4 separate regions of the Homo sapiens genome follow, and regions 1, 2 and 3 are each linked to region 4. The links come from fine-mapping of genetic effects on gene expression. A gene starts in region 4. Each other region holds a variant in brackets. All regions are shown on one strand. Distances are between the middles of the regions.

Region 1 (8,106 bases), 78 kb after region 4:
CTGAGGTTTGCTGTGTTGCACAGAGCAAGGGTCTTGACTGCAACATCACACGGCAGGCTAGCCCTCCAGAGTATCTTAGAGGGGTAAATATCCCAGAGCTCAGTACACCCTACATCCCTGAAGTCCTCGCACTCTGCTGTGAGTGGCTGCAGGCACTTCCCTCAAGGGGTTTCCTTATCTGGCTTCTCCCTTCTCCGTAAATAGCAGAAGGCAGAGAGCTTGAGAGCTCCAGTTTTCCAGTTCAGGAAGGCGGTTTAACTTTCTGCTGTGCTCCTTGCTCCTTGTGTGACCCTGAACAAGTTACTTAACCTTTCTAAGCCACAGTTTTCTACTTATAAAATGGGGTAAGTGTCTGCTTTAGAGAGACATAAAGGTTCAATGAGAAGAATGTAGAAAATGAGCTTAGCCCTGCTTTCACACGAACACAAAAGCGATTACACAATAATCCTTTACAAGGACACCACCCTGACTTTTCTAAAACATTGATCTGTTCATAGCACTTCAGAGTTTACCAAGTAGTTTTTTTTTTCATTTCTCATTTGATAATTACAACAACTTAAAATTCCACTTAAGCTCCTCCACCCTTTGTCTATAGGATTAACCGTCTAAGATTCTTAGCAAGGCATTAAGAGCGCTCTTGAGATCTAGCCCCTGCCTCCATCCTCCATCTCGTTTCCCCAGGGATGGGACGGAAGCTTCCCTCCTCATCTTCCCAGCAAGACAGCTGGCACTTAATGGGGAGTGAAGGAAACCTGCGCTGCAGCTTCCGCTGTGCTCTTTCCTCTTTTGTTCATTCGTGCCTTGCCCTTCCTCTCCCTTCTTATCCATCTAATTCCTACTTGTTTCAAGGCGGCCCAAGTGCACACCTTCTGCAATGGCCCCTATGTTTTCTTCATCCAATAAATGTTTATTGCCTGCCTGTGTGTGCCAGGAACGAGGTGCAAGGGCTACAGCAGTGAATGTGGTTGAATGTTTTGCTGCAGCCAGAGGCGTGGTTTATGGTGGTACTCATCACACAGGGCTGTAATTGCCGGGTCAGCCCCCCAGTCTTTAGTGCCTTGCTAAGAATCTTGGACTTTTCACTGTCAGATTACAGTTAAGCCCCATGGGCAGAAAGCACAGCTCCTTCATTTCTGTGCTCTGCTCAGTGAGTGCAATTAATATCTGTGAAAGTAAGTCCAACAAGCTTTTTATGCCTTTTCCTTGTTATACATTTCACTTATCTGGTTAAACCTGACATTATGGCGATTTCTAATCTTCCCAGTATTTACATTCTTATGTTGACATATTAAAAATGGAATGAGAATGTGCTTATTGAAAATAATTGCAGTTTCAAAATTAACCATCCACTTCGAAGATTATTCACACTGCAAGAGCTCATTCATTCTGTAGTCCCTGAGCTAATACCTCTAAAAAGAGGCCAAAGGGGCCTTCAAGACCTCCCTTGGTTTCCTTATAAGCCAAAAACAAAAAACAAACAAGAAAACCCAAGAAACAAAACATATAAATAAGCAAAACATATTGTATTGATACCTACCTTGTCATTAAATATCAAAAACCTCAAATACAACTTTACTACACTATGCATAACTGTGCCTTTTGCCAACTTGCTGATACATTTACTCTCTTAATAAAATTTAGAACAGCAATGCCTTGTTTGCTCAGCACTGCTAAGCAATAGTTCCTCCCTATAAGCAAACTTTTCAGATAACTCAAGGTCCCTGAGAACGCCATTTTTTTCTGAACAACTTCCCCTCAATTGTACGAACCTTAATTTGTATCAAACACAATCCTTAATAGTATGTAATGAACACAATCTAAATCATCCTAGATCTCACTTACTGCATACCACACATCACATTGACCTGTAACACAGTTTATTGGCAATCACAGGCATGGCATCACTGACGTCAGGTATATTTTTACTGCTCTCTTGATTAACTCCTCTTGCTTCTACTTCTCCTTGCTGTTAAGCTCTACTTACACTTTACTCTTTTACTATACACACTTTTCTGAGATAAAGGGCAAGAAATGTCTATTTGATAGAGTATATGGACAAATAGAACTTTGCCACTTATGGGCAAGTTTAATGTTCAGTTCAAGACAGCCAAGGGTGCTGAGAGTCTGACCTCTGAAAAAGTGGGGTGGAGTAATCTTTATCTTTTTCCATATAAATAATAAATAATGAGTATCCAGAGAGAATTTTCAGAAGAATGTGTTTTAGCAAGATAGGTCTAACTCCTTGCTCCTTTTATGTAAAGATCTCTAAATAGTCCCTCTCAGATTTCCTAATGTACTAATGTGGGCTAAACTTCATGAACAGAACACAGAACCTCCAGGTTCAGTGGCTTAGAAACAATGGCATTTCAAAAGTTTCTCTCTTATGTATAGTCAAGCGGAATTTTCCAAGCTGACCAGCAACTCTGCTCCACAGCGGCATTCAGGGACCCAGGTTCCTTCTCTCTCATGGCTCTGCCATGATGGGCACCTACTGGGACAAGGTCACTACCTTCTCTGGGTTCCACCTGTGGGAAGGGGACAGAGGAGGTGAGGGGGACTCACCCATGGTCTTAAGGGTCCTGGCCCAATAGCGGAATACACCCTTCAACTTACATCCCCTGGGAGAATGAGTCAGCTGGCTACAGGTAACAGCAAGAGGGGCTGAGAAATGCAGTCCCCAGCAAGCAGCACATGCCCAGCTACAACTCTACACAATGGAACAGGAGAATGGATTCTGCTGGACAACTAGCAGTCTTCAGGGAGAAAGTCTTTTCTTATTTCTATTTTATAGAAGCACTGTAAAATTGCTATACAATTATCTTATTTCAAGCTAATCCAATAGGAAAAAAATCAGACTTACACAAACGTTTTAAAGAACTATATTTTAGAGCTGAAATAAGCCTGAGAGATCATTTGGTCAGTGGACACTCTGTGACCAGCAGACATTATTTCATCGACTTGTTCCTATCAGTCTTCCACAGACGAACAGGGACTTATCTTGCTCATTGCTGATCCCACCACTTAGAACAGTTTCTGACACATAGGAAGTGATTAACAAATCTTTGTTGATAAAAAATAGTTGAAAACATGTAACAATGTAGAGATATTACATTATTTTGTAAATTTATCTCCTCCTCTGCTGAGTTACCAGGAGTGGCAGGATATATTTTGATGGCCTAATTATAGCAAGTTTCTTTCACTTTATGTAACATGAATATAAACTCTAAATACTGGCCAAAGTCCACAAGAAAATCTGGACAAGCGTATCAGTGACACTTGGTCTTTACACTTATTCTAAAGGAAAACCTAATAAGGGTCTGGCCTATCCTGTGCCTTCATTAGATTTTTTTAAAACCAAAGCACTGTCTTGAACTTGACTCCCAGATGTGAAAAATATTTTGTGTGACATTCAAAACACTTGTAAAATGCAAATACCTTCATTTGCTGAGAAATATTAAATGGTCTATAATCAAGGCCGAGCCTATTTTTTCCAAAGACAAAATTAAACATTTTGCCACCATTAAGACCAAAGCAATAATTCAAATTAAGATAGCTCTATCACTTGTGAATTACAAATAAATACTTATTATACAGTGGGAAATTCACTCTACCAAATACAATAGTAAATATTAAAATAAATTCAGTGACCTTTTTAAAAAAGATTACAAAACTGAATTTATTGAGATTCACACAAGATGCACTTATAAAATTAGTACTGAATGCCATTAAAACAGAAGAAATGAACATAATCCCGAACTCCCAACAGCATCTGCAAAGGAATGGAAATCTTCTGAAAATGACAGCGCAGTAACAGAATAATTCAAGCGGAACTGAAGATCTATCCAAACCATGTTCCTGCTCTGAAATCAGGGTTGTGTTTGGCAAAGCTTTCCCCAAACTATTCCATTCACGGTGGCATTGTTCCTTTTGTTGGTAAAGGGAGATGGAAAAAATAATTCTAAAATGGGGCTCCATTAAAACACACACAAAGCAATTAAAACCTTTTTCATTTTTAACTTAAAATACTTCCTGGTTTCACAAAGGCATGTCCATACAATTTCCTCAACATTAATCTTCAGATTTCTTTAGTTAATGCAAAACATTAAAATTCACTTACTTTTTTGTATTTCAAATGAACAAGTCAGAACATTAAAGCTTGCTTTATATTTCATCCAAGAAACAGACAAATCACCTAAAAATTGCTTTCTGCCTATGTATGTACGCCTGAAACATTTGCATGAGAGCTAAACTTCAAAATCAAAACATCAAAGGAAATAACAGTTAACAGTACCATCTTCTGGACAGTTCTGACACCAGAAGTTGTAGAAGTTTTACAGAAATGCAAACACGGTTGTCAAGATAAAATGGGGTGGGAAATAACTTCTATGATATAGACCACAAACTAGTAATTAAGCGGAAACACAATCTTCATCTCAAATAAAACCAAAAAGCACCTTTTGGTTGCTGTTCCCAACAGCCATACACAGATGCCTCCCCACACCAACAGCCACCCATACGCCTCAAACACCCCATTTACTTTCACACAAAATCCTCTCCAGACCCAGGCCTGCCCCATCCCCAGCACAGGCCCACCCTGATAGTCACATCCCCACAGACACCCTCCCACAGAACACACACCCTGCCCCAGCACAGGCACACTCGCTGTCGACCCAAACACAAAGACTAATGCATTTGGTAAGCCCAAGCAAGATGATGCTGTCTAACACACTTGGAGCATTTACTTTACAGTTAAAGTTGACAGTTTTGAATTTTGTACATTGACAATTTTTCAGCCTGTTCAACATCGAATCCTTTTAGCTGTAATAATTTATGAAGTAATTAGTTTTAAAGCAAAATCAGTTAAGTATACCTTAAAGTTAACACTGCTCTGCTTCCTTGGTGTAAAAAGTGCCCTTTTGTAAGGAAATTTGTTTTATCCACCAATTAAATGACATACAGCTCACATTTTGCTTTAAAGAGTAAACTGAAAAATTATGAAGGATTTTTCCCAGTAATGCATAGCCTTCATTAATTATTTTTTTAATAAATAAACTAGTTTAGC[A/AT]TTTTTTTTTAACCCTACAAAATGCTACTATTCATCATGTCTTATTTAAGGTAGCCTTTTATTCTGATTAATTAAGATACATCTTTAAGGGTTATTCTGGTGGTAAGAACATTTATCTTGACTTATGTTTAATTTTTTTAATGCTTTGGCAGATGAAGTAACGTTTGAAAACTGTTTGTGAAAATAGTATGAGACTGGAAAGATTACGTCGTGGTAAAAGTTTCACAGTTTTCCAGGTATTTCCTTATACTGAAGAGGCCTTGAGGCAAATTCAACATTCTGGAAGCCCAGACTGACAAAGCAAAACAGATTTTGATGTTGCCTTTGTTGGGTCCTGGAAATGATGCTGCTGCTTGGCCAGGCAGGAGGAAGTTTTATAATCCATCAAGCTTCCCAGACAGTCAAGGCCGGAGGTCGCTCCTGTCCTGTGGTCTGACCCTCAGCCAGGCCATATTACTGGAAGAAAGATACTAAGATTTGCTTGCCAATAATAATTTAAGTTTTTAAATAAATATTTAAGTGCCATGTTTAGCATCTATTTGTCCTGGCAACACAGCACTTGTTGCCCCAGGACCCAGCTTCTTCAGCGCATGAAGCCACAGATTCAGTCAATTCGGTTTCCACAAATTGTGAACCTGTCTATCTCTAACAAATCTTTCTTTGAGGATCTGTGTTTTAATTCAGAATTGTCCTGCGTTATGTCCTTCTCGTCACCATCTGGAGTTGTCAAAAACTGATCAGAATTGCTTGTCACAAGTAATGGTATGATATTTTCCTTTTGATGAATAGGTTGTTTGGTGATGGAGGCAGACAGGTTTTCTTCTGTGGAAAGGCCTGTGATAAAATAGATCCATTAAATTAGAGAAAGACTTTTCTCCAATTATTAATAAATACAAACTTACCAATACAGTGGTGCTGAAAAAAGTGCCCATTATCCATGCTTTCCGATAAAGCAAATGATAACCAAATAGCATGTTGTATAAGCAGCCATCATTTATAATAAAACTTAGAGGCTAATCATCTGTTTGTTCAACTTTATGGAAGGGTACATTACATTGCTCGTATCACACAAACAATGCCATCACCCAACTGCAGAAAGATCACAACTCCTACATTACGGCTCCTCTCTATATAATCAAGACCTAACATGACTGTTGGCAGTCCTGAAACATTAACACTTGCTCCAATACAGAACATCAGGGAGTGGGCCAAGAAGACTTTACTACATTCCACCTGTCATCTGTAGTCACTTCAGCTACAGATGGTTTAGCATCATCATCTCTGGGAAGTCCAAACCAGAGGTTAAAAACAAACAAACAAATAAACAAAACCCCCAATGTTCATTTTAGGCCACAGAGATCCTGGAGCCTGGCTTTGGGGACAGCTGGGCTGGGGCCTGGAGAGACTCATCTGAATCATACATTCAATCCATGTAAGAACAGCTTCTTTGAGGCAAAAAAGACACACCATCAGCTGTACACATTTAAAATGTATAATCTGATGAGTTCTGACATGTGCATACACCTGGTCACACTACTGCCATGATGGAGGTAATGACACATCCAGCTCTCTTGTAGTAATCCCTCTCTCCTGCCCTCACCCCCAGAACCGCTGTCTTTTGTCTCTTTTACAACGTGATGAATCTGATGCAGCTTTGAGAGACAGCCCCCTCCCTCTCTTTAGCTTGACTTCAACACCCTCCTGCATGTTCTCCAGTCTGTGTTCTCCTGACCTCCAAGACATTCTGAGCAAACACTCAGGTCGTCATCCTGAATGTACTTCTCATAACATGACCCCTGAGTCAATGGCCCTGCCCTGCAGTACGTGCTTAAAGCTTTTATCCCCATTAGACTGGATCCTCCTTGAAAGCAAGAGTGACGCTTACTAACTTTTTGTTTTTATATTTTTTGTAGAGATGGGACTCACTAGGTTGCCCAGGCTGGTCTCGAACTCCTGGGCTCAAGCGCTGCTTCTGCCTTAGCCTCCCAAAGTGCTGGGATTATTAAAGGCATGTGCCACTATGCCTAGCCTAACTTCTTAACTAATATGCGTAACAAGAGAACACGTACAGGCCCCACTATGAATTACCTAGTTGGTTGAAAAAAATGCAATCCTTATTACTAATAGTGTTCTTATAATGAAAAAAATAATTTCCCAGTGATTATACACATTGTTATTTTACTTTATTTTCGCTTCCGGTTAAGTACAGATGATGAGCACAGACCCACTTTCAGGTAGGACTCCAGTCCAGCCCAACTCTCCTCTCCTCCCTCTTTCTGAAGCACACTCCACACTTGCCATATTGAGCTGCTAGTTCTCCAGACGCTTTTCCAGGTCTCCATGATCTAACTCATGCTGGCCCTTCTGGAGTGCCCTTTCCACCAGTCTGCCCTGGGCCAGTTTCATCCTTCAAGCTTTTAGTTTAGAAGAACCCCCCTCTCCTGTCCCTCCAAACCCTCTGCTCACCTATTTGGACCCCTGTAGTTACATGAGGCCTTGAAGGACATCCTTTATTTTTCTCTCTTCAGCATCTCCTCTATGACCTTGCACACAGTTATTCCACACATTTAAAAACACATCATTTAGGCCAGGCATGGTGGCTCATGCCTGTAATCCCAGCACTTTGGGAGGCCGAGGCAGGCGGATCACGAGGTCAGGAGATCGAGACCATCCTGGCTAACATGGTGAAACCCCGTCTCTACTAAAAATACAAAAAATTAGCTGGGCGTGGTGGTGGGCGCCTGTAGTCCCAGCTACTCGAGAGGCCGAGGCAGGAGAATGCCGTGAACCTGGGAGGCGAAGCTTGCAGTGAGCCGAGATCACGCCACTGCACTCCAGCCTGGGCGACGGAGCAAAACTCCGTCTCAAAAAAAAAAAAAAAAATACATCATTTAAACTAAAAGTTATATGAACAAATACCTCTGTGAACAGGGAACTGCCACCTAACAACAAAAATTAAGTCAACGTCCCAGTTCTTCCTCCAAATCTTCCAACCCAGAAACCCTGGAATCATCCTGAACTCACCTATTCTTCTCACACTGCAT
Region 2 (8,106 bases), 59 kb after region 4:
CCCATAAGAGGATCCAAAAGCAATATGCATTTAGTAGAAACAGTACTTCAAGTACGCATACAACCATTCTGTATTCACTTTCAGTACAGCACTCAATACATTACATAAGATATTTAGCACTGGATTACTAAATAAGCTTTGTGTTAGATGATTTGCCTAACTGTAGGCTAGTGTAAGTGTTCTGAGCATATTTAACATAGGCTAGGCTAAGCTATGATATTTGGTGGGTTAGGTGTATTAAATGCATTTTCAGTTTACAATATTTTTAACTTATGATGGGTTTATGGAGATGTAACTGTGGGCATCTGTATAATTTAATGTAGTTTCAGGTAATGATAACTACTCAGAAGAACAGTTACAAAGGGCAAAGCAAGACTGGGCATGGAGTGGGTTCTCTTTTAGATGAAATGGTCACAAAAGCTCTCTTGGAAGGGGTTTCGGATGGCTCAGCTCACTTGCACATGCGCCAGTTTCCACCTATCCAAGTTCAGGGACCTGGGAGACAACAGTATAGTACCGAGGAAAGAGCAGAAACTTGGTAGCTTGTCTTTCGTTGCGCTTGCATTGGAGGGGCACGACATTTCCTGCAGTCCTTGTGGCTGTAAGCTGAAAATGCATTTACTACACATAACCCACCAGATACCATAGCTTAGCCTCGCCTACCCACGCTCAGAACACTTACATTAGCCCACGGGGGGCAAATCATCTAAGCCTATTTGGTAATCAAGTGCTAAATATCTTATGTAATGTATTGAATGCTATAACTGAAAGTGAAAACAGAATGGTTGTATGGGTACTTGAAGTACTGTTTCTACTAAATGCATATGGCTTTTGCATCATCTTAAAGGTGAAAAATCCTAATATCTGCTAGTAGCATGCATGAAAGGAAATGGCAGCACTTTGGAACTGCAGTCATTGGAACCTGGACTTTCAAGACTGCCATTTACCAAGGGTTTTCTATGAACGAGGCACCTCATCCACCAACCAGGATGCTGAATGGAACTTCTCCATTGAGATTTCCTGAGTCCCCAGAAGTGAAGTCAATGGGTTCTCACACATTTTAAAAGGAGGCGTTAGACACATGACCACAGAAATGCCCAAATCTGCAAAAACCTGTGACCCTTGCTCACCGCTCACTTCCAACCTACACAAGAGATAAGAAATTCAGAGAAGATTGATCAGAGAAAGCTATCCCTTAAAGCAAATGCACAGATGTGGAGCTTGTGACAGTGTTTGTCCTCCTTTTTATTATTTTTAGAGGCAGAGTCTCGCTGTGTCACCCAGGCTGGAATGCAGTGGCACAATCATAGCTCACTGCAGCCTTGAGCTCCTGGGCCCGAGGGATCCTCGCAGCTCAGCCTCTTGAGGAGCTGGGGCTACAGACCCACACCATTGTGCCTAACTTGTTTCTCCTTCTTTTCTGAGAGGAAAGAGAAAAGCCAGGGCTCCTCATCCTAAATGAGGGGAAGGGGCAGGAGAATCTCTGGGGAGGGGAAGGGGTGTCCATGGGCCAGTCTGGTTTCTGACTACGTGCTGAATGTCTCCTAAGCTGCTAAACTGTGCACCCAGGGCCACTACAAGGCCAGAGCAGAGTGCAGTGACAATGCTGGGTGACACCTTGGCCTCCTGAACTTTGGAGGTCACACACTAGAGTCAGCTTTTTTCCTGAAGATGTCCAGGATGCATGAGGAGGATGGTCAGGCAGCCTGGGGAGCAGCCTGCACCCCCAGAGACTGGCTGGGCAGAGGGAACACCAAGGAAGGGGCCGGACTAGAGCCACCCTGGAAACAACCCTGCCCAAGCAGGCTGCCTGGCAGAACTCCAGGGCGGGCCCCTGGGGCGGGAGATGAAGAGATGAGAAGGAGCTGGGAGAGGTCAGAACAGAGGGTGCATCTATCATGCCAGCAGGCCCCAGGTGGGGGCAGGGGTGGAAGTGAGGCTAGTGGATATCTCTGAAGAACCCACAAAAGGTACCTCTTGGAAGAGAGAAAAGAAAGAGGGCTGTTATGGGTTGAACTGTGTCCCTCAAAAAGATGTGTTGAATGAATTCCTCACCCCTAGAACCTGTGAAGGTGACCTTATTTGGGAATGGGGTTGGGGCTGATGTAATCAGTTAGAATGAGGTTGTAGTGGACCAGGGGGGGCCCTTAATCCAATATGACTGTTGTACTTATCAGAAAAGGGAAATTTGGAAACAGACACAGAGAAGAGAGCACCATTTGAATAGATGCAAAGATTGGAGTCATGGTATCACTATCTAAGGATAGTGCTTCGGGGGCTGCCAGAAGCTGGAAAAGGCAAAATATGACCCTGCCCCAGGGGTTTCAGAGGGAGGCTGGTCCTGCCAACACCTTGATTTTGGACTTCTAGCTTTCAGAACTGTGAGAGAATAAATTTCTGTTGATGTAGGACACCCAGTTTGAGATATGCTGCTATGGCAACCCTAGCAAACTAATATAAGGGCCAACCTTTGGGCATCTGCCACATAGAAGACCCATGGCCAGATACTCCAAGAGTCAGGTGAGGCAGCCTTGAGTTCACATCTCCCCTCCGCCACCCACCCCTTCCCCCAGCTCCAGGTGCAACAGGGCATATGAGGGACACACCGGGTCCTATTCCTGGGGCTGTCCTTGCCTAAGCTGGGGAAAAGGCAACTGCTTTGAATGGGACGTGAGATGGAAAAAAAAAAAAAAAAAAGCGAAACAGAAGATCTGAGTGGCTTAAATTGGACTTCAATCTTTTTACTACTAGAACATGCTATAGGATCTACCTAGACTGTGAGAAGTTTCCCCAAAGAGTCCACAGGAAACATATAGGTAGGAATATCTGATGGGCTCTGGCCCAAAACTTTCCTCTAAGCCTCAAGGAGAGCCAAAGCACTATTCTGAAAATGTTGGAGGCAGAAGAAAGTTTTCTCAGATTCCCTGGCATCTCCTGGGCTTCTCCATAAATGGAAAGAAGGCTCAGTTCAGCTTCACTGAAGTCTTGGATTCTTGTCCCCCAGGGACTGAAACCAAACCTGGAGCCCAGGTCACTACAGGGAAATGATCCAGACCTCAAGGAATTTCAAAACACTTACTCAGGCAACAGCTTTACCTGGAAGCTGGCCAACAAAGGCCATATAATGGACAGAGCAACATTCTGTGGTTGGGGAAATGCTTTCAGAGAGGCAAGCCTTTGGGACTGTAGATTAGGATCCAAATACCAGTGTAAATAGAGTAGAGCTTCCTGGTAGAGGGCTTGGTTGCTCAAGGTGAACAGTGTGT[G/A]TCTTTGTCCATGGTCAGCTCCACAGTCCAGAGTAAGTTACTCTATCATCAGAGTTAATGGCAGGAAACAGAAAGTCCCCTAGTGGGTTTTAGGTATACAGAGAATTAATACAGTTAATTAGGTGCTTCCAGAAATCATCTGAAAGCTGTCAGGAAGTTGGGTGGCTCTAGACTGGGTCTCTAGGAGTGTTTAAAAGGCATCCCAAATTTGTTTTAAGCTGTTATGGTGAGACATGAAAGTGACTGTCATGAAGAAGTTTGCTACTCACAGGTCCCTAGAAGCAGGGCGTGCAGGGCCACATGGAGAAGCACCCATGTTAGTCCTTTACTGAGGTTTCCACAGGGAGGAACAGGTGAGGTAGTGTCAGCAGCTTTAGGATTGTCTAATTTGAATAATCTTAGCAGGCTCTTGGGCACAGGGGCTGCCCCTGGTTGTGTGTCCCTAATTGTCTTTCCCTAGGGCTGACCCCGGTTGTCCAGCCCTGGGGTGATTAGAGCAGGCAGATAGTGGCCTGGAGTATGAGAACAGATATAGGAGGTGGTTGGGGTATGGCTCTGGATTGGTTGGTTTGCATATGAAAGGCACATTGGCTCACACACCAGACATTTGCTATTCCTAGGAATTCGCTAGTCCAGTAAGGGGTGGTCCCTCCAGGGTCAGCAAAGCCCCAAGATGTCAAAGCATCAAAAATACAGAATAAAAACACAAACTGGGCAAGGAATTGCTTCTGCAACATTTGAGAAGGCAAGGAAATGGGGCTACAAGGAAGCTCATGAGTGCCAGAGGATTAAGATAGTGTCTGTAAACCACTAGTAGAGTTAAAGGCATTAAATCCTCAATTAATAGCGACTGCTACAATTCTTAGCATTGCTTTCAGTTCTGTAACTTGGGCTACACAGACAATGATCACATTATTAGGTTTGCACTTAAAAAGAAAAAAAAGTCCCCTGTCATTTGACTATCTCTGAGACATCTGGAGTTTGAGACTCTCCGGGAGCACAGTACTAATCACACGTACACTCCAGCAATACTGGATGCACTAAGTTAAACTGGTGACCTGGAGCATATTTGAGGTGCGTAGTTCTGAACCTTACCTTTTGATAAAGGTTTGGTCCTTGCTGGGGGCTGACATTGCCTATAAGAGGACCTAACAAAGCTCAGTGCTCTTTCCAGCATCTTCCTGTAATACCCTTAGAGGTCTTCTAATCGTGTAGTGCTTTCTGTTGCCCACTAGCCAAGGAGCAGAGTGAAGTGAGACCCAAACCAGAAAGTAAACCTGAAATGCAGGCAGAGAGGGCCAATCCCCACATGCACAGAGCAGAAGTGCAGAAAAGGGGGGCAGAGGACACAACTCTTGTGAGCACCCTGGACAGCTGTTTTGCATTTAGCCATCGGCAACGCCATGAGGCTGAGATGTGTCTCAGTTTTATAGAGGATGGCAAAGCTCAAGAGGTTATGCACTAGCAGAGGTCCCACAGCAGGGTTCACACCCAGGTCTACCTAACTCTGCAGGCCAGGAGGCTTCCAACCACACTACACAGCCTGGAGAAAGAACTGCACATGAAGAATGAGCTGTGGAGGAGGCTGCCATCGCCATGCCCATAGAGGGCAGCCAGGTGTGGTTGGGGAAACGGTGGAGTGAGGTCAGAGCCTCAGAGAACAGCAATAGAGGCAGGCTGCAAAGACTTCCCCCCATGTCCCTGTTCTCCCACAGATGCCCACCCAACTTCCCAAACTGGAACTGCATTTCTGTGCACTTTTGCTAATGGAAATCCCAGCAGAGGACTTTGTGACTTTTATGGTTTGTTTTAATAACACACCCCTCACGATTACTAAAGTAATACACATCATTGTAAAACAGAGAAATGGACCTTGTATGAAAACAAGCCACCACACCCACTAGGATGGCTGTCATAAAAAAGACAGATAATAGCAGGGTTGGTAAGGGTGGGAGATATTGGAACCCTCATAGTCTGCTGGCTTCTGGTACAGCTACTTTACAAAACAGATTGGCAGGTCCTTAGAAAGTTAGACAGAGTTACCATGTGACTCAGCAATTCCACTCCTGGGGATATGCCCAAGAGAAATGAAATTATAGGTCTACAGAACAGTGTGTACATGAATGTTCACAACAGCATCTAAAGGTGGAAGCAATCTAAATGTCTACTAATTAATGTGTAGGTAAAGAAAATATGGTGTATCTATACAATAAATGTTATTCAGCAATACAAAGGAATGAAGTGCTGATATGTGCTGTGACATGGATAAACCTTAAAAATGTTATGCTAAGTAAAAGCAGCCAGTCACAAAAGACCACCTGTTGTATGATTCCACTTTCATGAAATGTCCAGAGTTCATAAATCTATAGATAGACAGTAGGTTAGTGATTTCCTAAGGCTGGGGTGGGTGGGTGGCTACTAGTGAGTATAGGGTTTCTTTGGAGGGTTACAAAAGTGTTCTAACATTGATCATGGTGATGGTTGTACAACTCTGTGAATATACTAGAAATTATTGACTTGTACACTTTAAATGGGTGAATTTTATGATATATGAATTACATGTCAATAAAGATGCTATAAAAATTATAAAAACTTGCATGTGGACATTTTTAGCAGCTTTATTCATAATCGCCAAGATTTAAAAGCACCAAGATGTCCTTCAACAGATGAATGAGTAAATACACTGTGGGACATCCAGAATACGAAATATTATTCAATGCTTAAATGAGCTGCCAAGCCATGAAAAGATGTGAAGGAAGCTTAAATGCGTATTTCTATGTGAAAGGATCCAGTGTGAAAAGCTACACACTGTATAATTCCAAATGCTGTATATGACATTCTGAAAAAGGTAAAATTATAGAGACAGTAAAAAGTTCAGTTGTTGCTAGGGATTGTGGGGAAGGAAGGATGAAGAGGCAGAGCACAGAGGATATTTAGTGCAGTGAAACTATTCCATATGATACTATGATGGTGGATCCATGTCATTACTCATTTGTCAAAGCTCAAAGAATGTACAGCACCAAGAGTGAACCCTAACGAAAACTATGAACTTTGGATGATAATGATGCGTCAATGTAGAATTGTCATCAGTTCTAACAAATGCACCACCCTGGTGGGGGACGTTGATAGTGGGGGTGGCTGTGAGTGTGGTGGGTGGAGAACATATGGGAACTCAGTACATTACACTCAATTTTTATGTGAACCTAAAACTGGTTTAAAAAAATAAATGCATGCAAAAATACAGTTAGGTAGAAGGAATAAATCCTATGATTTTATAGTATAGTAGGGAAATTATAGCTAACGATAATTTATTGTACATTTCAATACAGCTGGAAGAATTGTAATGTTCCCAATACAAATAAAAGATAAATGTTTGAGGTGATGGATATACCAATTGCTCTGATTTGATCATTAAGCCTTTTACACATGTGTCAAAATATCACACGTGTTGCGGGAAGTCAGGGACCCCGAATGGAGGGACCGGCTGGAGCCGCAGCAGAGGAACATAAATTTTGAAGATTTCATGGGCATTTATCAGTTCCCAAATAATACTTTTATAATTTCTTATGCCTGTCTTTACTTTAATCTCTTAATCCTGTTATCTTCGTAAGCTGAGGACGTACATCACCTCAGGACCACTGTGATAATTGTGTTAACTCTACAAATTGATTGTAAAACATGTGTGTTTGAACAATATGAAATCAGTGCACCTTGAACAAAAACAGAATAACAGTGATTTTTAGGGAACAAGGGAAGACAACCATAAGGTCTGACTGCCAGCGGGGGCGGGCAAAAAGAGCCTTATTTTTCTTCTTGCAGAGAGCCTATAAACAGACATGCAAGTGGGAGAGATATCGCTGAATTCTTTTCCTAGCAAGGAATACTAATACTAATACCCTGGGAAAGGAATGTGTTCCTGGGGGGAGGTCTATAAACGGCCGCTCTGGGAGTGTCTGTCTTATGCGGTTGAGATAAGGACTGAGATACGCCCTGGTCTCCTGCAGTACCCTCAGGCTTACTAGGGTGGGGAAAAAACTCTGCCCTGGTAAATTCGTGGTCAGACCAGTTCTCTGCTCTCGAACCCTGTTTTCTGTTGTTTAAGATGTTTATCAAGACAATACGTGCGCCGCTGAACATAGACCCTTATCAGTGGTTCTACTTTTGCCCTTTGCCTTGTGATCTTTGTTGGACCCTTATTAGTAGTTCTGCTTTTTGCCCTTTGAAGCATGTGATCTACTCCCTGTTCTCACACCCCCTCACCTTTTGGAACCCTTAATAAAAAACTTGCTGATTTGAGGCTCAGGTGGGCATGACGGTCCTACTGATATGTGATGTCACCCCCAGTGGCCCAGCTGTAAAATTCCTCTCTTTGTACTCTTTCTCTTTATTGCTCAGCTGGCCGACACTTACGGAAAATAGAAAGAACCTACATTGAAATATTGGGGGGCAGGTTCCCCCAATAACATGTACCTACCAAATATGTACAACTATGATATAACAATAAAAAAACACAAAAGCCTAGTTTTTAAAAATCGCATAATGAAAAAAAAACACGTGGGAGTCTGACCACACACACAAATATGATAATCACTCAACAGTTCAACCAATGTTCTTGGCTCTTTGTAAAGACTTAAAAATATAGTTTCCTATTATAGTTTTTCGCCTGTTTCTCCTTTGCTAGGGTGAAAGGAAAATAAATCTTGGGGCCCCAAAATCACTAAGCTAAAGGGAAAAGTCAAACTGGGAACTGCTTAGGGCCAACCTGCCTCCCATTCCATTCAAAATCATCCCTCTGTTCACTGAGATAAATGCATATCTGATTGCTTCCTTTGGAAAGGTT
Region 3 (8,106 bases), 27 kb after region 4:
TTTCATCACATGAAGTCTTATGGAAGGAAAATGTCAAATACTCAAAGGCTTAATGAATAAAGGATGGCTTTTATTGGCCAGGCAGCAACAGGGTCTCTGGGGTAGACCAACTTGGGTTCAAATCTGATTCTGACACATCTAACTCCATATGTCATCTTGAACTTCTTATACTTAACCTTCTACGAGCCTCCATTTCCTCAACTGTAAAGTAGAACTAATAATGGTAGCACTGCTGGGTGGGTGTCATGAGTCTTACATGAGACAAGGCATGCATGGCACCTGCACAGCAGAGGGTTCCAGTAAGAGTTGGTGCTCTCCTCCTGACCATTCAACCTCTGATTGTATTTAGGGCAGCACAAGGATCCTTCCTTAGAAGGATCCTTGCTCCCTGCCATCCTACAGGTCTATGACTGGTTAGATAAACCAGATAATGTAATATCATAAAGATGCTAGAGGCACGGATCATAGCGCAGCTCTGACTCCACCCCAATCCCACCCCTGAGAGAGGCAGCTCTTTGGTAAAATTGTGCAGGGAAGTACAAAAGGGCCTCAGTCTCCCCACAGCTTGTCCTCACAATAAAACACAGTCCAAATGCATCCTAGATGGGGCCAAATACATTCCTAAAAGTGAAACCAATTTAGTATTTTCCTTCTGCCATTTAAAAAAAATACAAGTTTGTTCCTTCTCCAGAGTTCTCTATTTTAATTAATAACTTCAGTCTCCCAAGAGGAAAATTCAGCCTCATCTATGGTATTCGTCATGTGGATCCAACCATGCAACCCCTTTTCTTGCTGGGGACCCCCCATTTGTGTAGAGTAGCAGTGGGACACAGCTACTCACTTTTCACCACAAAAACCTAACAATCGTCGTTCCATGCACCTGTCACACACCCAAGCATGACCCTTTCAAGGCCTGGCTCGTTGGCCACTTCTGCCCGGGACTTTGTCCCTGGAGTGTGTGATGCAGGACATGAGGCCAATCAGACATCAGAGTAGCGGCAGGGGTGGTGGTGTGGGTGGTGCCAGGTGCCAGCAGTGGTGTCCTGATCAGGCTGTACCTGACCTGGAGTGCTGATTCCGAACTGCAGCCTCCTGACAGGGCCAGGAGCCATCCAATACCCTTTGGATATATTCCTCTTCTGAGTATGATTAGCCAGAGTTGGCTGCTGGTGATCCCTGATTGATTAACACACCACCTTCAACATTGCCCTCATCTTCCTTTTGTAATCCATCCCCTCCTCTACAGTCTCATGGTGGCAGTGCTAACTCAGCCACTCGTGTACTGTGTGGACTCATCATATTCCATGTACTGTGTAAAGTCCCTCAAAGTCGCAGCTCATTGCTCACTCACTGGGATTAAGGGGAGGCAAGTGATTTGCCATGCAAGTACAGGTTCAGATCCTGTCTGTATGTTAAATTCGAGGCATGTGTATCATGGAGCTTGAGGCATAAATATGGATTTTTAAAATATTGCATTAAGTATTATTTACTATAATTAATGAGCTATTTGGGAACGCCCTTAAATTTTGTGCTGGCCCTTGAGTGACTATGCAATACTGATCAAGACCATAGCTCATCCACACGCTTTCCTTCCTTCACTAAACAAACTCTTCAGAGCATTGCTTTGCATCCAACTGTACTAGGCTGTAAGGATGCAGAGGTAATTAACACCAAGTCAGGCCTTCAAGAATGTCATTTGTCTAGTGGGGGGGAACAAATCAATGCCACTTTGAATTCTACATGCACCAATAAAGGGAGAGTACAAGATAAGCATGCCCATAAGGCAGGAAGTCTCAGTTCAACCCCGTATGAAACCTTCCAGAAAATGTTTCCCAGGGCTATGATGCTCCAGCTAACTCATTAGAATGAAAAGTGTGTCCGATGAAGAACAAGGCTAAGAGGAGAGGTGCCCTGGGCAGAGGAGTTAGCACACACAGGCGTGTCCAGATTCAGTCAGTGGTATGGTGGGGCTGGATCGTGTGGGCTGGGACATAATGTTGGTAAAAAATGAATAATGATAGAGGAATCTAGAGCAGTAAGTTGGAGGGGCTTGGGATGTGGAGGCGCTCACATGCCATGCTGAGGAATTGGGACCATCTGAAGGCAATGGGGAGACATTGAGGATTGTAGAGGAAGAAATGATTGACATTAGCTGTAAGAAGATTACCCCAGAAGGAGGGTTGGGGAGGAGAAAGGTGTGGGGAGAGAGGAGCCTGACAGGAGTCACCCAGGTGGGTACTCAGGGCTGGTTCATGGGCTTGGCATTTTGGAATAATCCATTAGGTTTAACCTCTTCTTGTGCTGCTTCTTTCCCCCTAGTTGCTGGCAAGCAAAGTGCAACTATTATATGTAGCAACTGTCCACTGGCCTCAACACCCTGGGTCTACAAAATAAGGTCTCCTTTACACTTACATCCCAGCTAGAAAGACTCCATGCCCTGCCCTCCTCTTGCCTCAGCAGGAAATCAAGTGCCTCTTACAGCACCTATGCAGCATTTCTGGGGGTCCCCCACCACTCAGGGCCTGACATGTTCTTAGGCTCTAGCTCTGATGGTCATGGCCAACAAAGCCACCTGATGAGGCCCTTCCACTGCCCCTGCTGACCGAGCCCATCCTGAGACACCAACTTCCCTGCCACCGCTATCTCCAGATTCTTCCAGAGCCCTCAAAACTTGGAGCTCCAGGGACTGCTGCATAGATCTTGGGAGAATGGCCTTCTCCCCCAAGCGGGGCTATAATTCGGACTTCAAAATGGCTATGCACGTTCCTAGAAATTCCTAAGAGTCCCAGGAAGTGTTTCATTAGCTTCAAGATCTTACCCCTCAGATGAGAAGGATGCTAATATTCGCATCTCCCATGGGAGTGGCGGGGCAAAGCCTCTGCCCCGTCTCCCCCATTGTCTTCCAGGACCCATGCCCGAGTTTTCGTCTCCATCCAACTGAGAGCTAGACTTTCCCAACAGTGTTCAGAGCATGTTTGCTTCTTGGAGCCATGGTCTCAAATGCTTCCACCTCAGAAGACCTCTAGTGTTCATTTGCATAGCTGGAGGCTCACTGGGGTGGGCAAGATTTTCAGAAAAACAATGGGACAATCTGAATATATCCAAATGTCCACTTCTTCCAGAGACATGTCAGCTTTAAGTTGCTCTCCCCACTAGGTTTCCAAGAGCCAGGCCCAGCGCGGGTGAAGACTGTGTGTTTCCCCAATGCCCTAAATGTTGTCTGCCAGAGGGAAGCTTCCATGAAGCCTGAGACAGACATGGTAGGAAGCTCAGCCCAACGTGATGGCCCCGAAAGGTCCATCTCTTGGGTGTTTCATTTTGGGCCGTTCCCCTTTCCTCTGATCCACATCACTGAAATTTTAGATTCCCATGAAATGTAAATTCTGCAAGGGCAGGCGTCTTGATCTGTTTTGTTCACTAAAATATCCCAGGAGCCTAGAAGTGTGCCTGGCACAGAGTTGGAGCACAATAAATATGCATTGAATGGGTGAGTGCCTATTCTCAGTAAGCAGGTTGTGTAGTGAAAAGAATATGGGATAAGCATCTAAACCTGGATTCAAATCTGGCTCTGCTACATGTTAGTTGAGTAGTCACTTTAAACCCATCACTTTACCTCTCTGCACCTAAGTTTCCTCATCGGAAATGGGGACTATAGCTGTATTTTAGAAAGAAGTGAGGTATAGGCTGGGCTTGATGGCTCACGCCTGTAATCCTAGCACTTTGGGAGGCTGAAGAAGGCGGGTTGCTTGAGTTCAGGAGTTCAAAACCAGCCTGGGCAACATGCCAAAACCCTGACTCTACCAAAAATACAAAAATTAGCTGGGCATAGTGATGCACTCCTCAAGTCCCAGTTACTCAAAAGCCTGATGTGAGAGGATCACCTGAGCCCAGGAGGTCAAGGCTGCAGTGAGCCATGATTGTACCACTGCACTCCAGCCTGGGTGACAGAGCCAGACTCTGTCAAGGAAGGAAGGAAGGAAGGAGGAGGAAGGAGGAAGGAGGAAGAAGGAGGAAGGAGGAAGGAGGAGGAAGGAGGAAGGAGGAGGAAGGAGGAAGGAGGGGGAAGGAGGAAGGAGGGGGAAGGAGGAAGGAGGGGGAAGGAGGAAGGAGGAGGAAGGAGGAAGGAGGAGGAAGGAGGAGGAAGGAGGAAGGAGGGAGGGAGGGAGGGAGGAAGGAAGAAAGGAAGGGAAAGGAAAGGAGGGAAATAAAAGTGAGACATACATTAACACACAAAGAAAATGAAATGTGACTGTAGTGTGAAGTATATTGTAGGTGCTAACAGATATTTCTGCCCCTCTTTCCTCCTTCCCTTTCTTCTACAAATATTATTGAACACCTTCTATGTGTGTAGGCATCAAGCCAAGTGTTCAGGACACAGCAAGACCAAGATAGTGGAGGGAAAAGTTTACTGTCTAGTTTGGGAGATGGATAAAAAAATCTGGAAACAAATAAACCAAACAAATCATTTCAAAAAGTGCTCAGAACTATCTGCCCATGTCCAGATTTTAATCGAAGTGGAAATCTCTTTTGTTCCTGACCCATGGGCCAATGCTGGGTGCTAACTGGGGTCAGGGGCTGGAG[A/G]TTCTAGGCCTGACTCGGCCCTTGACCAGAGATACACAGACTTGGGGAACTACCTAATACTTCCAGGCCTCAGCTTCCTCATCCAAGGGCAGAATCTCTGAGATTCTTCTCATGGTCCAGTGGTCTGTGATTCATTTTTTTTCCCCAGGGTCAGCACTATATTGGAGTAAGTTTGTGATTTGTAGGGAGCTTAATATTTTAATTTATGAAAGGACCATTAAATTCCTTGCTAATAGACACTGTCATGCTGCTCAGCAGCTTCGTTAGCCAATCCATCCTGAGTCTTAAATTAAAGCCAGGAAACCCCAGGGTGTCACTCAGTGTTAATGTCTTGAAAGCATTAAGAGGTTTATAGGAGCTTATATTAAGCTTCCCAGCCACCTTCCTTCTTGAGTCAGCTTCCATTCTGCTCCAGCTTTCTAGATGCCACTCAGAGCAGCCCATGTTGGCAATGACTTTGATGGTGGTGTTTCAAAGACATTTTAAGTACAGTCATGTGTTGCTAAATGATGGGGATATGTTCTGAGAAATGCATTGAAGGCTATTTTGTTGTGCAAACATCACAGAGTGCACTTACTCAAACGTAGATGGTCTAGCTTACTACACACCTATGTATATGGTACAGGCTATTGTTCCTAGACTACGAACTTGGACCGCATGTCACCGTACTGAATACTGTAGGCCACTGTAACACATGGGTAAGTATTTGTGTATCTAAACATAGAAAAGGTACGGTAAAAATATGGTATTATAATCTTATGGGATGACCAAGGTGTGTATATGTGGTCCATTGTTGACTAAAATATTGTTATGTGGCACACGACTGTAACTGTGCACTGTAGAAGGCATTGCTCTGCAACAGCATGTCCTAGATGTTTTCGTGACATGACAAGTATGTTATACTCAGGGTCAGCTCTAGACAAAAATGTGGAGTATGCATAGGAGGAAGAACATGGACTTTGGGGCCAAACAGACGTAAGTTGAAGCCTATGTCCGCAGTATCTTGTGCGATCTTGGACATGTTTTTTCATCATTCAGAATTCCAATTTCATCATTGACAAAGTGGGAATAACAGCACCTATTTTACATGGTCATTGTAAGGATTTTATGGAAAGGACAGAGCTGGTGCTCAGTAGATTGGGGGCCTCTTAGAAGCTGCACCTCCATGTCACTCTCTGGAGTCTCTGCTCCCATCTGCTTTCCCCACTGTCCACCCTGGGTATGCAATCTCTGCCTCTTCCTCATTTTCCTGTGTCAGACATGAGCCTTTGAGGTATTCCTCGTTTTCCTATGTCAGACATGAGCCTTTGAGGTATTCAGAGATTTGGGGGAACTTTTCTCTCTCCTTAGCCCCAATCCTAGCACTGGAAATGACTTAGGCTCAAGCATCGCCCCATCCTACCAGCCACCTGCACATGAGAAAAAGGAGATTCCAGGAAGTTGTGTGCATGGAGTGTTTTATATCAGAGGAGTTAAAAGCGTGTGTTCTGGAGGTATATTGGCTGTGATTTACGGTCTATGTCCCCTTGATGAGTTATCTGACTTCTCTGTATTTCCGTGCCATCATCTGTATATTATGGCTAGCACCTAATACAGCATAACACTGTGAGGATCAAATGAGTTAATACACACAGAGCTTTGCCCAGCAACTAACATGTATTATTTCCAACAAGTATTTATTGAGTGTCTGCCCCATGATGGCTGGTGTCTTTTCTACTGTCACCGTGTCAGTCAGTGGGGAACAAGTGATTAAATCCCAGGTCTCTGACTCAAAACTGACCCTCTTCCCAGAGTATGCACATTTCCTCTTTCTTCCCTCCCCATCTTTCAAGCAGGAAAATGGGGAAGAAGGAAGGAAGGAAGGAAGGGAGGGAGGGAGGGAGGGAGGGAGGGGAGGGGAGGGTGGAGGGGAGGGTGGAGGAGAGGGGAGGAGGGAGGGGAGGAGGGAGGGGAGGGGAGGGAGGGAAGAAGGGAGGGGAGGGAGGGAAGAAGGGAGGGGAGGGAGGGAAGAAGGGAGGGGAGGGAGGGAGGGAGGGAGGAAAGGAACAGGTATAGGATTTAAACCTGCCCAGCATGCTCTCCCTCCTCCTCTGGGTTCAACTGAGCCTGAGCTCACTTCCATTGAGTGGAAGACAATGGATTCTATGGGGGTTTCTACATTTGATGTTCATGTCTACCTTTATCACATAGTGTGTGTAGACTCACACTCTCCCCTCAACCACAGATTCTTCATTCAGAATGGTCCAGTTCCAGTTACTGCACAGCTGATAGAGACAGTGAGGCTGGGAGGAAACAGGACAGATTTCACATCCAGGGCAGAACAAATGATTTCCTCCCTCTCATTCATTTGCCCGTTCTTTCATTTAAGAAATACTGACTGACTCTGTGTCATATACTGTGTAGTATTTCATCTAACCCTCATGAACCACACAATGATGGAGGCATCGTCCCATTTGCCAGATGAGAAAGGTGAGGTTCTAGAGGTAAGGAAATGGCAGAATGAGAATAAGTCTGTCTCCCTTGGTCTAGCACTGGATCATTATTGATCAAGCACTGATTATTATTATTATTATTTTAAGAAACAGGGTCCTGCACTGTCACCTAGGCCAGTGTGCAGTGGTATAATCATAGCTCACTGCAGCCTCAAGCCCTTGGGCTCAAGTGGTCTTCCCTCCTCAGCCTCTCAAGTAACTGGGACTACAGGAATGCACCACCACATCCAGCAAATTTTTTAAAATTTTGTAAAGATGGGGGGGTTTATTATGTTGCCCAAGCTGGTCTTGAACTCCTGACCTCAAGTGATCTTCCCACCTTGGCCTGCCAAAGTGCTGGGAGTACAGGCATGAGCCACTGCACCCAGCCCATTGATTATTTTTTAAGTCATCAAACATATTTTCACTTGACTGGTGGGAAATTGTCTAATGTATTCCATAAATTTACCCCAACAAGGCAGAGAATGAAAAAGTCTGAAAAGTGCCCTATTCCTAGATCATAGTGATAAGAAGGTGGGGTTAGTCGATCAGTTACCCCTATCTGAGGGTGCCAACTCCCTGCCACGCACTACTCTTGGGGCGGGTCATCACTCATGTGGTGTTCTTGGAGCACCTTTTGCTCCAGTGTAGGCACCACAGTTTTCTGTGCAGAAGCAACATTGCCCTGATGCACTCTTGTGTTTCAGAAGGAAAAATACCAGCCAGGGATGCAGAGGGCTGGGTCTGGTTCCACCTCTACCACCTACCAGATGTGTGACTTCAGATAAGCTGATTAACCTCTCTGAGCTTCTGCCTCTCCTTTCAGGAGTTCTGAGAGTGTCCTCATCTCTGCTTGTGCTCCTTTTGAGTGTTCCTTAATTTGCACTTGGTCAAAGTTTGTCAGGGCAGAGCTATTTACAGTTGTCCAGGAAGCGGAACTTTCCGTGAAAGTTCTGGAGACTTCCATTCATCCCACAAAATAATTCGCATAAATAAATATCAGGCTCAGATGCAAAGTTTCTTTTTATAATAGAGAGGAGACATTTGAGAAGGA
Region 4 (8,106 bases):
CACCAAACCTCAGCCCAGGACAGAGAGAAACTGCCAAGGGAAGAACTATGAACAAACAGGCTCTCCAACTCCCTCAGTGACAAAGCAGGGGAAGGGAAATTCCCAGTGAAGTGAAACATAACTGCTCACCGCAGCAAAGATGGGAGACAATGACTTGAGATAGACAGCAACTGCAGTTGCACTTCCAGATTTCTTTACATCTTGCTCCAAAATGTAGGTCCCTCTGAAGTTTTAAAGTACATTTTAAGAAAGTATTAATATCTCACTAACTATGAAATACTAGAAACTGATTAAAGTCAAGTCAAAGAGGAAGAGTTTTTTATCTCGGGTTTAATAGGTTGTGCCAAAAACAGAAGCTCTGAGTATTTACCAGCTAAACCCCACTAGGTCCGAGAGCCACTGAGAGTAGCATCTGTCTCGGGATAAAATGGGGTGTTTAGTTGAAATGCAGACTATTAATGGACCTAATTTCTGGGATGAAACCCATTAATCTGCATTTTTAACAAGCTTTCCTGGGGACTGATCCTTCAAACAAAGTTTGAGAACAGTTCTGTTCCTGGAGTACTCTGATCCTGGAGTACCCGCCTAGTCAATTCATGTCACTTTCCAAGGACACTTCAGGCTTCCCAAACACATTGGAAAATAACACATGTAAGGTGAAAGCTCCCCAAATGCCCTTTTCATATTGCTTTGAATTGATCTACCCCAGCTGCTGTGCAGGTCCCTGGCTTATTTCTGTATCCCCAGAGCCTGGAACACAGTTGGTACTCAATGAAGAATTGCTACCAGCCTGGGCAACATAGAGAGGCCCTGTCTCTACAAAAAAAAAAAAAAAAAAAAAAAAAATTTAAATTAGCAAACGTAGTGGTGCACAACTGTAGTCCCAGCTACTCGGAAGTCTGAAGCAGGAGGATTACTTGAGTCCAGGAAGCTGAGCCTGTAGTGAGCCATAATCATACCACTGCACTCCAGCCTGGGCGACCTTACATGATTTTGAGCCTGGAGTCCAGAGAACTGCATTTCAATACTGGTTTAAAAGCAAATATGGCCCGGGCGTGGTGGCTCAAGCCTGTAATCCCAGCATTTTGGGAGGCCGAGGCGGGCGGATCACGAGGTCAGGAGATCGAGACCATCCTGGCTAACATGGTGAAACCCTGTCTCTACTAAAAATACAAAAAAAATTAGCCAGGTGTGGTGGTGCACACCTGTAGTCCCAGCTACTCGGGAGGCTGAGGCAGGAGAATCACTTGAACCCGGGAGGCGGAGGTTGCAGTGACCTGAGATCATGCCACTGCACTCCAGCCTGGGTGACAGAGACTCCATCTCAAAAAAAAAAATTAAAAATGAAAAAGCAAATATGGTGATCAATCACCTTCATTTCTTCTTTTCTTCTTTTGATGGAACTTCTCAGAATCTTTCTTTTTAAAGAAGAGCTTTGTAGTGGATTTTTGTCATCTGGAGTGCTTTTGGCGGGGGCATGGGGGATACCCAACATCTGAGACCACGTTTGTGAGCTGGGTGGGAGGCAGCCCTGCCTTGCATTGTGAGGTCAGCTGAGGCGCCCAAACTGTGTCCTGGTGGAGCTGAGCCATGCTGGGCCAATCAGAAGCTTTCTTCTGGGCCTGGGCCTGCGCACTCTGAAGCAGGACAGTATCTAATTCATTCCAGCAATGATGGCAGCAATGCCAGTAGCCACATCCAGGGTCCTGTTCTGGCAGCCGCAGCCACCCACCCATCAGGGGTCCTGTGGCATGTCCTAGATTCCTAAGCCTGGCTAGCCAGCCTTGCTGCCACTTACCTAAGCCACCCAGGGACCATCCTTTCAAGAAGTCCTTTTATATATATACATATACATATATATATGTATATGTATATATATTTTTTTATTATACTTTAAGTTCTAGGGTACATGTGCACAATGTGCATGTTTGTTACATGTGTATACATGTGCCATGTCGGTGTGCTGCACCTATTAACTCGTCATTTACATTAGGTATATGTCCTAATGCTATCCCTCCCCACTCCCGCCACCTGACAACAGGCCCCGGTGTGTGATGTTCCCCTTCCTGTGTCCAAGTGTTTTCATTGTTCAATTCCCAACAAACGGTGCTGGGAAACCTGGCTAGCCATATGTAGAAAGCTGAAACTGGATCCCTTCCTTACACCTTATACAAAAATTAATTCAAGATGGATTAAAAACTTAAATGTTAGACCTAAAACCATAAAAACCCTAGAAGAAAACCTAGGCAATACCATTCAGGACATAGGCATGGGCAAGGACTTCATGTCTAAAACACCAAAAGCAATGGCAACAAAAGCCAAAATTGACAAATGGGATCTAATTAAACTAAAGAGCTTCTGCAGAGCAAAAGAAACTACCATCAGAGTGAACAGGCAACTTACAGAATCCAAGAAGTCCTTTATCTGATAAAAATTACCCCCGACTCAGCTTCCACTGTTTTAACAAAGTATCTTGACCCTTAACAAATCTCAGAAATAGCTCTTTGCTCCCTGAAAAACCTATTTCCTTTATATTTTAAACAGTACCAACTTGGTTTAAAGTTTTCAGCTTGTCCTCTGATGCATTTGTTCACCTCATTGTACTAAAACACAAAGAAACTGTCTCGTATAAAAATCAGAAGGAAGTTTAGAAATCAGAAAGAAGTTTAGAAAAGTTTAGAAATCAGAAGGAAGTTTAGAAAAAAATTATGGAACACATGAAAAAAAAAACAAGAATAAACTAAAGGGCACTGCTGAATAGACAGACAACAGCAACAGTAAGGGGGCTCTGGTCCCCCTTACTAACTCTGCCAAGATGACAGTTGTTTGAATTCTCCAACCCTTCTTCTGCTCCTCTGTCAAAGGAGGATTTCGCATAGGGTTCGCAGGCTAGCGATCTAATAGGTAAAGCACCTGGCACGCAGCTGGAAGGCTATCTGGGGTCTGTCTGCTTCTGCTAGCATCAATACTCTGAGCTCAACTCCACCGGGGCTCCTAGGATAACCGGGACAGAAAGGACGGTGAGAAAAGAAAAATGAGTAACATCACACAAGTTGAATCATATGAGGTTGACGATATTCACATCTTCCATCCAAAAAACCGACAATTTCTTATGATTCAACCCAACATATCGCAGCGGTTGTTCGTGTCGCATGAGTCTCGGGGGGCACTCAAGAACTACGATCGTGCACTTGCTTTCTTAACAAAGAACAGCTGCCGCCCTCAGGAACTCCAGCAAACCTTTCTCCAGAAAGGTCAGTCGCCTTAGCGGGCTCCAGGAGCAACCTGTTGCAGAATGAAGCCTGGGGCGCCGGCTTCCCCGCCCTTTACCTCCAAACCACCTCCAGGCCAAGCCCCCTCCAGGCCTAGCTCCCTTCTGGGCGGAAGCCTCTCGCGAGCTGCGGGACACAAAAGAATGAGCGGCGGGGCGGGCGCGGGAAGCCAAGAGACTCCAGGAATTCGCAGCCGCGCAGGGGAGGGGGTTGCCGGAGTAACTTGGCTGCTCTGAGCGCGTCGGCGCCAGTTCCCCGCCGCGGCCCCTGTTGGGCACCGATCGGGGGCGATCTTGCCAGAGAGAAGGGGTTCTGGAGCTAGTTCCTCCCTCCGATCCGACTCCCTGCCCCTCCAGACACGGGCTTTCGGGGAAACTGATCCCGAGCCTCTGACTTTCTACAGCCGTGAAGCTCCTGGTCTGTCCACGCTCCTCTTTGTTGTCCGGTCGGCGTGTTCTGGCAGGGTGCGCCTTGAGCACCCCAGTTCTCCATCTAGCGATAGCCGCGGGTCCCCGCGCATGCAAGCAGAAGGGCCGTGGAGCGAGAGGCTGGGAAGGTGCTTCAAGCCAGGGGTGCATGCTTTCTCCCACGGACGCGGGGAGATGGCCTCGCTTTGTACCCCCATATCCCTACTCCCGCTGTGGTCGGCTGCACAGTGTTGGCCCATTTCCGCACTCAGCCAGGGAAGCTCAGCGCCTCACGTCCCCGGGGCCATCCCTAGAGTTTCCTTTACCGCAGACTCGTTCCCAAGACCCTGGCGAGTCTCACCTCGGTCACCGTTCTCCCCGAGAGCGAGTCCGAAGTCTCTGGGGCCCCGGTCCAGTTCGCACACTCACCTCCGACTCCCGCTCCGGAACCACGGCCGCCGGCTACCCCCACCCCCGCCCCCATCCCCAGTGGATGGAAAGAAGACCCAAGCGGGGCGTCGCGGGCCACCACTCAGACTAAAAAGTTTGGGTTGGACGGGCACCGGCACCACCACGCTCTCCCCGCAGTTCCTCTGGCCCCCAGCCGCTGTCCGGGCCCGCACCACCTGCTGAGGGGCCAGGGAGGCGGCGCAGATGGCTAGGGTAAGGGGGGCGCAGAGCGAACCCGTCCACTCCTCACTGTACACCCCCAGTACAGTGGAAGGAGTGCGCTCAGCCCCGCGCCTGGTCAGCAGATGCCTCTCTCGCTCCGGGATGAGGACCCAGCTACTCACCGTGCACCCGGCTCCCGCTCCTGCTCCCGCCCTAGTCACCGCTGCCGCCGCCCTTCCCTTAGCTCGCCAGACCCTGGCTCGTGAATTATTTATGACCCGGCTTCTGGGACCACCGCGACGGCTTTCGGAGAGCCCGCCTCCCACTGCCGGCCGCGGAGGGGCTCAGGCGGCGCTGCGGCCGGACCCTCGGACGTGGCGGGAGGCAGGAGAAAGGCCCGGGTGCCCGGGGGGACCCGTTGCGGCTTCCTCTGTCCCGGACGGGGACCTAGGTATGGGGCCGCCGTAATGGAAAGGATTCCTTAAACATACTCACCGCGGCGGGAGAGCTGAGAGCATGGCCAGGTGCCGCGTGGGGATCTGCCTCAGTCACTTAAAGATCGCGAAACCCGAGCCCTGGACGCACTCTGATTGGACCGGCTGAGCTGCTTCGCCACGTAGCCCTGGGGCGCCCACCAGCACCTGGACAGCATCCATTTCCTGTAGAGGTGCCTGCTCAACCCCCTGCACTCCCTTCTTGCAACGCTTGCGCCTCTTTTCCCCCCGCAGAGTCCCTTACTTAGAATGCAGCTACCCTCCTAAAAACTCTCCTGTCTCATCCCGGCCGCATTAGACCCTTCTGTTGCCTAATCCCAATGCAATTTAAAACAAAACAAAACAAAACAAAACAAAACAAAAAACAAAAAAACAATCATTTGGATCCTTAGTGTGCAGCAGTACCAATGCTAGTGGCTGAAGCGGTTGAAAAACAGCATAAAGCCATATTCGCTCCCATGTGTACACACAGGCATCTGCTATAACGTGAAGCCACTGCAACTTCTTTTCTCACTGCCTATTGGTCTTCCCGCTCTGTGAGTTACAACTCAACCTCGGAGTCTTCACCTTGCTACTTAGCTGAGTGGTGGAAACCTGTCAGAAGTAATCACTCGGTGTCTAAGTGTCCTCACCAATTTGCACTTCACTCTTATTCACCACTTCTTATCTTGAATTGAGAATACTGTACTCTCCGGCAGGCAAAAAAAAGACTTAGGGAAGAAATGCACCTTCAGGATGGTGTCTAGCATACAGCAGGTGTTTAATACATGTTTGTGATATGGATAGACAGATGAAAGGATGGATGCACAAGCTACAAATGAATGATAGACAGGAACATTAAGTCAGTACCTTTTTCTTTTTACCCCAGAATCTAACATAAAACAGGTACTGGAAAATAAGCATTTTTTGTTTTTAATAGTTAGATTGATCTTGAGTGTGTATATTTCTAGACAAGAAATGTTAGTTCAGAAAACTTCCAAAAAGTACAGTAGGACATGGCAAGGTTAGATGGTTTGGCTCTGTGTCCCCATCCAAATCTCATATTGAATTATAATTCACTGGGAGAGGGACCTAGTGGGAGGTGATTGGATTATGAGGGCGGATTTCTCCCTTGCTGTTCTCATGATAGTGAGTGAGTTCTCAGGATATCTGATGATTTAAAAGTGTGTGGCACTTCCCCTTTGCTCGCTCTGTCTCTCCTTCTGCCATGTGAAGATGTGCTTGCTTTCCCTTCTTCCACCATAATTGTAAGTTTCCTGAAGCCTCTCTGGCCATGCCTACGGTACAGCCTCTGAAACCCAGTCTCAGGTAGTTCTTTATAGCAATGTGAGATCAAACTAATATGGGTGGAAAACAAATCTCTTCTAATCAGGGCAGATTTCCCCTCTGCAGCCCCTGCAGGTCAGAAGTTTCTGGTTGAACATCTGCTGGGGTCCCATAAACCTTCTCCTAGATAGCACTTTTAGGCTGGAGCTAGCAAAAGAGGTGATTTCTCAAAGGAGTGGGTCCTGATCTCCGTCAAAGTTTGGTCCCGCCTCTTTTAATCGCTGTGACTTTGGCTGCTTAATATTTCTCTGAGCCTCAGTTTCCTGGTCTGCAAAATGAAGACAATTATAACTCACAGGGCTCATTTTCATTCCTAATAATATCAACAACAATAGTATCAGTAGAAAGGGGTGAAGCAAGATGGTCAAATAGAAGGTTTGACCACCCACCCCCCACCCCGGCTAGGAACACAATTTAACTGCTATCTACACACACAAAAAGCACCTTTATAAGAACCAAAAATCAGGTGAGTAACCACAATACCTGGTTTTAATTTCATATTACTGAAAGAGGCACTGAAGAAGCCAGGAAAGACAGTTTTGATTTGCCAATGCCGCCAGTCCTCCATCCCCCAGCAGCAGCAGCCTTGTGGCTTGGGAAAGGGAGAGTGCAGTGATTGGGAGACTTTGAATTGAACTCAGTACTGCTCTGTCATAGCAGAAAGCAAAACTAGGCTGAACTCAGCCAATTTCCCTCAGAGGAAATAGCCCATACCAGTGGTGAAAACTTGAGTTTCAGTAAAGTGCTCTGGGGCCCCAAATAACCTTAAAGGCAGCCTAGGCCACAAGGACAGCAACTCCTAAGCAAGCCCAAATGCTGAGCTCAGAGCCAGTAGACTTGGAGGGCATGCGACTTACTGAGACACCAGACAGGGGAGCTAAGGGAGTGCTTGTGACACCCCTACCCCAACCCCAGGTAGTGCTGTTAGTGGCTCTTCATCACTGCATGCCCTTTTCTAGCACTCATGCCTCTTTTACCCCAGCAGAGCTCTCTACTTGGAATGCAGCTACCCTCCTAAAAATGCTCCTCTCTCAAAAACTCTCAGCCACATTAGACCCTTCTGTTGCCTAATCCCAATGCAGTTAAAAAAACAAAACAAAAATAATCATTTGGATCCTTAGTGTCTGCATCAGTCCCAATGCTAGTGGCTGGAGTGATTAAAAACAGCACGAAGAGACCCATTCCTTCTGCTTGAAGAGAAGAGGGGGAAGAGTAAAGAGGACTTTGTTATCTTGAATATCAGTTTAGCCACAGTAGGACAGGGCATCAGTCTGAGTCATCAGACCCCCATCCCAGGTCCTAACTTGTGGATAACATTTCTAGACACATCCTGGGCCAGAAGGGAAACTGCTGCCTTGAAGGGAAAGAAACAGTCTGGGCAGGACCCATCACCTGTTGGCTAAAGAGCCCTTGGGTTCTCAATAGCCAGAAGCAATACTCAGGTAGTACACTGTGGTTCTTGGGTGTGACTCTGAGATCTGCTGGTTTCAGGTGAGACCCAGTATATTCCCAACTGTGGTGGCTAATGTGAGAGACTCCTTCTGCTTGACAAAAGCAGAAGGAAAAGTAAAGAGGATGTTTTCCTTCCCCTTAGGTACCAGCTCAGCCACAGGGAGGTAGAGTACTAAGCAGGCTCTTGGGGTGGTCTTCAATGCCCAGACACCAATGAATATCCAAAAGCTTCCAGACCACCCAGGAAAACATGACCTCACCAAACAAACTAAATAAGTCCCCAGGGAACAACCCTGGAGAAATAGAGATATGTGATGTTTCAGACAGAGAATTCAAAATCAATATCTTGAAGAAACTCAGAGAAAATTAAGATAACACAGAAAAAGAATTCAGAATTCTATCAGATAAATTTAATAGAGATATTGAAATAATTTTAAAGAATCAAGCAGAAATTCTCAAGTTTAAAAATGCAACTGACATACTGAAGAATGCATCAGAGTCTTTCAATAGCAGAATTGATTAAGGAGAAGAAATAGTGCACTT

Alleles and levels. Positions count from the first base shown, and alleles are read on the strand shown. Sizes are in standard deviations (SD) of each study's normalised expression.
With allele AT in place of A in region 1, the expression in transverse colon of the gene that starts at base 4,832 in region 4 is higher (moderate effect, 0.45 SD a copy in CEDAR).
In carriers of allele G in region 2, the expression in thyroid of the gene that starts at base 4,832 in region 4 tends to be lower than with A alone (moderate effect, 0.58 SD a copy in GTEx).
With allele G in place of A in region 3, the expression in skeletal muscle of the gene that starts at base 4,832 in region 4 is higher (small effect, 0.30 SD a copy in GTEx).

What was found. PIP is the estimated chance that this variant, and not a neighbour inherited with it, causes the effect. A credible set is the group of variants that fine-mapping cannot tell apart.
Region 1: its variant is the best candidate, but not a certain one, in a credible set for the expression of PROM1 in transverse colon (CEDAR, PIP 0.88).
Region 2: its variant is the best candidate, but not a certain one, in a credible set for the expression of PROM1 in thyroid (GTEx, PIP 0.82).
Region 3: its variant is the best candidate, but not a certain one, in a credible set for the expression of PROM1 in skeletal muscle (GTEx, PIP 0.83).

Annotation. Positions count from the first base shown.
Region 1 is chr4:16,157,642-16,165,747 of GRCh38, forward strand. TAPT1 (transmembrane anterior posterior transformation 1) reads right to left here. Exons shown (of 14, transcript NM_153365.3): 14 at 2,864-5,896. The coding sequence ends at 5,667. Among named protein-coding and RNA genes, the nearest start is that of TAPT1, 65 kb to the right of the region's middle. The variant A/AT (reference allele first, on the strand shown) is at 5,063.
Region 2 is chr4:16,137,942-16,146,047 of GRCh38, forward strand. No RefSeq gene overlaps it. Among named protein-coding and RNA genes, the nearest start is that of PROM1, 58 kb to the left of the region's middle. The variant G/A (reference allele first, on the strand shown) is at 3,267.
Region 3 is chr4:16,106,173-16,114,278 of GRCh38, forward strand. It overlaps LOC107986261 (a long non-coding RNA gene), which reads right to left. Exons shown (of 5, transcript XR_001741597.2): 5 at 7,704-8,106. Among named protein-coding and RNA genes, the nearest start is that of PROM1, 26 kb to the left of the region's middle. The variant A/G (reference allele first, on the strand shown) is at 4,582.
Region 4 is chr4:16,079,192-16,087,297 of GRCh38, forward strand. It overlaps PROM1 (prominin 1), which reads right to left and starts at 4,832. Exons shown (of 28, transcript NM_006017.3): 1 at 4,787-4,832. RefSeq lists an enhancer at 18-107.